Regions from separate parts of the Homo sapiens genome. Here region 1 is linked to region 2. Evidence: fine-mapped expression QTL. Tissue or cell type: whole blood. Region 2 holds a variant in brackets; the other region holds the start of a gene. All regions are shown on one strand. Distances are between the middles of the regions.

Evidence for each region. PIP is the estimated chance that this variant, and not a neighbour inherited with it, causes the effect.
Region 1: ADHFE1 starts here. The variant in region 2 is fine-mapped to the expression of ADHFE1 in whole blood (TOPMed, PIP above 0.99).

The regions. Positions count from the first base shown.
Region 1 is chr8:66,431,527-66,434,026 of GRCh38, reverse strand. ADHFE1 (alcohol dehydrogenase iron containing 1) reads right to left here and starts at 1,523. Exons shown (of 14, transcript NM_144650.3): 1 at 1,452-1,523. The coding sequence starts at 1,510. It overlaps LOC102724687 (a long non-coding RNA gene), which reads left to right and starts at 1,661. Exons shown (of 5, transcript XR_929013.3): 1 at 1,661-1,743. RefSeq lists a silencer at 1,270-1,689.
Region 2 is chr8:66,690,657-66,693,422 of GRCh38, reverse strand. C8orf44-SGK3 (C8orf44-SGK3 readthrough) reads right to left here. Exons shown (of 19, transcript NM_001204173.2): 3 at 2,663-2,718. Among named protein-coding and RNA genes, the nearest start is that of SGK3, 21 kb to the left of the region's middle. The variant C/T (reference allele first, on the strand shown) is at 1,797.

The DNA.
Region 1 (2,500 bases), 260 kb after region 2:
ATTTCCACCAGAATGTGCTAACACAGTTCTGATTATGCCATACTCCCTTTTCATGCAACCATTCCAAAAACATATTCTGTGTGTGACACTGATTCCATGGGATATAAATGGTGTTGTGTGACAAAGAGTTCTATGATGACACAGGTTTACAACCAAAAATTTGAACACAGCTTTAGTATTTTTTGTAGCTTCTTGGAGCCCTGCATGTCTAATGTATATTTTGATTCTCCAAGAGGGCAATACAGCAGTAAGGAGCTTCTCAAACTTATTTGGCCATGTAATTCTTTTGTCATGGGACATTTTAAGGTATCAGTGTTTAATGGTGACAAATATTATTCAATGGCTTTCCATTATCTACAGCACACAATTCAAATTCCTTACTACAGGCCTAAGAACAAGGACTGTGAAGCCAGAGTATCTGGGTTCAAATTATGACTGTGCCATTTGCTTAGCTGTGTGACACTGGACAAATTCTTCTCCATGCCTTTATTTCCGTATCTATGAGGATGACAATACCGTGTGTCATAGGGTCAGTGAAAGGATTAGAGTTACTATTATACTGATAGTCCATTCAAAGTGTGTAAGACACTGCCGGGCTCATCGTATTAGCTATATTCTTATTCATGGTCTTTTATCAGCCGTCTTCTCCATCTTTACCTCCTCTTATAAAGGTAGGTCTACTTGTCTTTTGTGTCCTGGGACTGCATCTCCATCGCTGGTGTTGCTCTTCTCTCTGCCTGACGTTCCTCGCCAGTCCCTCGCCTTTCCTCCTACTGATCTGCACCTGTGAGCTCAAACTTTTCCATGTTTCCCAGGCAGACTTGTGCACTTGCACAGTCAGCAAGTATTTATCAGGTGACCAGGATGTACCTCACATTTCTGCTGGGAGGCAGGCGTGTCATGACATTGAATACCCTGACTCCCTGTACATGCCAGGAAGTGTGACTCTGCGACTTCTCACATCCATCCTTCCCTTCTACACCCAGTCTGCTATAGCCGGTTTTAGCCTCGTCCCCTCATCCCATTCCCCACTAGACCTCAAACTGCTCCAGAGCCTTTCATCTTTGTATCCCCAGAACCTAGAATAGTTTTTGGCACATAATATATGCCCAATAAATATGTGTCAATTGCATACATGAATTTGTCTTGGCCACCGTGCCAAGCTCTCCACTGCCTGCTACGATGTGGGACCAGGTCCTCTCTGGGCCTCAGTTTCTTTAACGGTAGACAAGCAGAGTAAAGGCTGCCTCACTGCGCCCTGAGAGGCTGCATCGCGCACTCTGTGACCTCGCTGTTCCGCCTGGCGCGCGGTGGGAGCCCAGGGCGGTATCCAAATTCTCCGAATTCTTGAAAGTAAGCGGAGAAGACTGCGCAGGATCTGAGCGGGTCACACCCAGGGGGCTGCGTGGGCACCCTGCGGTCCCCTGCCCGCCCGCCGGCCCCGCACTCACGCTGCGCGTTGCAGTTGCCTCAGCAAGTACGCGACCCGGGCTCGGGCGGCAGCGGCCATGGCGCTTGGAGTCCTCTTCCCTCCTCGGGTCGCTACACCGCCCCCTCCGCCGGCCAATCACGGAGGCTGCCCGCCTCCCGCCCCTCGGCCGCGCCTGCCCACCCGCTTCGCGGGGTCACCTGTCTAAGCCTCAAGCCAGTCGGGCTCAGGGCCATTTTCCCACGGAGTAAGAACCAGAACGCCAGCTGCCCCAGCGGCGCTCGCACCATCCACCCTTGAAATTGCCGTAGAAGGTAACTGCTCCGTAGGCCTCGGGTTCTGCCTTAAATCTCCTTACTTATCAACTCTATTTTTCACATGTTGAGGACTTGGGGGAAGGAAGAGGAACAGGGATATTCTTTTTCCACTGTTAATCCTTTAAAATGTTACTTTCCCTTCTAAGAGTATTTTAAGTGATCAAGACCCTGCCTTTAAACTGTTTTAACAGTAAACAAGAACCTAGCAGAGCCCGAGGGTTTTTGTTAAATACTGTGTGAATGGCTTTGCTTTTGATGAAAGCAAAATCAATAGTTAAAACTCTTACATCAATAGTTAAAACTTGCCATGATTAGACTATGCTCCGGGAGGGCTTGGCTGTGCCATATCTGCCATGTCCCAGTGGAAAAGCTGATTAACGATAAAGCTCAACTTTATCAGAAAGTATCCAAAGACAGTAACAACTAAACATTTGCATTTTTAGTAATCTGTTATTATGAAATCTGAATCCTTTATGGGAGATATTAAGTTTTACAGAAATGAATTTACTGCGATCAAACTGGAAAAGATTGATGGACAGGAAGACCAAGGACAGCTATATAAACATTTCACCTCCTAATCAAACCAGCTCAGGCCAACTTGACAAATGAATCAAAAAATAATGTTCTATGAGAACACATGTACACAGGGAGGGGAACAACACACATTGGGGCCTGGGGGCAGGGGATAGAAGGGGGCAGAGGGACTTAATACTTAGGTGATGGGTTGATAGGTGCAGCAAGCCACCACAGCACA
Region 2 (2,766 bases):
CAGCCTGGGCAACAAGAACGAAACTCTGTCTCAAAAAACAAAAATATACCCCAAAAAATCTTATACACGTTTGAAGTAGAAAGCTCTGATTTGAGAAACAGAAATAATTGGAAGGAAGAAACACTGAAGGATGAGTCCAGGTGGGAGACTGTGAGTTGTATACAGGGCGTCATCTTCACCATCGTGGTTTTTCTCCGGCAAAGCTCTGCAGCCCTGATATAGCCATGGAGGAGGCAGACAGCTGGATTGAACCTGGCTTACGAAGGTTTAAGAAAAGGACAATGGAGTAAAGGAAGAGAGCCCAAGTGGGGACCGTGCCATTTACACTTCCTAGGAAAGGAGGAGGTAACAGACAGAAAGGAAAGGCCAAGGGCATGGGGGACTTGCACAGGTAAAGAGTGAAGTTAACAAAAACTTATTATACACAATCACACCATTACCAATATTTTACATTTTAAAGTACGCTGCAAGTTTCAAAGATAGACTATTTTTAAAGACTTTTTAAAAGCAGTTTTAGCTTTACAGTAAAACTGAGAAGGTACAGAAATTCCCCACTTACTCCTTGCCCCCACACATGCACAGCCTCCCCCATTATCAACATCTGCACCCAAGTGGTACATTTGTTGCAACTGATGAACCTACATTGAAACATCTTTATCACCCAAAGTCCATAGTTTACAGTATGGTTCTCGCTTGGTGTTGTACATTCTATGGGTTTTAACAAGTGTATAATGATGTATCTGTTATTATAGTATCATACAGAATAGTTTCACTTTGTGTGTGTGTATATGTGAGACAGCGTCTCCCTCTGTCTCTCAAGTGCTGTGGCTCAATCACAGCTCACTGCAGCCTTGATCTCCTGGGCTCAAGCAATCCTCCCACCTCAGCCTCCCAAGTAGCTGGGACTACAGGTGCATGCTGCCATGCCCGGCTAATTTTTATATTTTTTGTAGAGAGGAGGTTTCGCCCTGTTTCCCTGGGCTGGTCTCCAACTTCTCAGCTCAAGCAATCCACCTGCCTCAGCTACTAAAGTGTTGGGATTACAGATGTGAGCCACCATGTCTGGCTTAGTTTTGCTATCTTAAAAATCCTGTATCTTTCACCTATTCATCCCTCCCTACCACCAACCTCTGTTCTTTTTATTGTCTCCATAGTTTTGCCTTTTTCATAATGTCATGTAGTTAGAATCATACAGTATGTAGCCTTTTCAGATTGGTCTCTTTCACTTAGCAACATCCATTTAAGTTGTCCCCCTGCATCTTATCATGGCTTGCTAGTTCATTTCTTTTTAGCGCCAAAAATATTTCATTGTATGGATGTACCACAGTTTATTTATCTATTCACCTAGGGTAGGACATCTTGGTTGCTGCCAATTTGGCTATTATAAATAAAGAAACTGCTATAAACTTTCATGGGTAGGTTTTTTGCAGACAAACCGTTTTTGAATACATAGTCTGAATATAGACACAAATTTTCTCGATCAAATCCTAACAAGCCAAGTATAGCACACTGAATCAAAGTGTGTATCAATATGACCAGAATAATAAAGCAATAAAAACTGTAATATGTTAGGAATAAAAAGCTCTTTAAATTGATTATCTCAACAACTGTTTTGAGGAATTAAACTGTTTGATCATTTCCCTTATCTTCTCTTTGCCCCATCCATTCCTAGCCCTTAACACAGTCAGCATGATACAGTGGGTCAATAGACTCTGTAGCAATGTTGTTTGTATTTCTTTGTTGTTGTTGTTGTTGAGATGGAGTCTCGCTCTGTTGCCCAGGCTGGAGTGCAGTGG[C/T]ATGATCTCGGCTCACTGCAACCTCCGCCTCCCAGGTTCAAGCAATTCTCGTGCTTCAGCCTCCTGAGTAGCTGGGATTACAGGCACATGCCACCATGCCCGGCTAATTTTTTTTTTTTTTTTTTTTTTGAGACGGAGTCTCGCTCTATGGCCCAGCCTGGAGTGCAGTGGCGCGATCTCAGCTCACTGCAACCTCCGCCTCCCGGGTTCAAGCGATTCTCCTGCCTCAGCCTCCCGAGTAGCTGGGACTACAGGCGTGTGCCACCACACCCGCTAATTTTTTTTGTATTTTTAGTAGAGACCGGGTTTCACCGTGTTAGCCAGGATGGTCTCGATCTCATGACCTCATGATCCGCCTGCCTCGACTTCCCAAAGTGCTGGGATTACAGGTGTGAGCCACCACACCCGGCCTAATTTTTGTATTTTTACTAGAGATGGGGTTTCACCATGTTGGCCAGGCTGGTCTCGAACTCCTCACCTCAGGTGATCTGCCCACCTCGGCCTCCCAAAGTGCTGGGATTACAGGCATAAGCCATTGTGCCCACTGTTTGTATTTGTTTCTGTTTGAATAATGGGGCTCTGACACTTAAAAACTGCCTGATTTGGGCAAGTTACTTAACATCTTTGTGCATCTTCTTCCCCATCTATAAAACAGGGAGTTTTAATAGTACTTACTTCATGGATAGAATGAGTTTATATCTATAAACTCTTAGAATAATACCTGGAACACATGTTTGTTAAATAAAATGTATAATATGTATGTGGATCACGTGTGTGAATGCTGGTTCTTGAAGGACTATATGCATTCTGTTAAAGTCTTGCTGAGTCAAACTGTCAGGTCTGTGATTTGATTTTATGCTACTTACAGGTCAAAAAGCTAGCCGTTCCTGGTTTGTGAATGCTGGAGGAAGACAGGAGACATCTACGCCAGAGAAAAAGAAGTTTATTATTCACAGTACAGGAAAAAAAA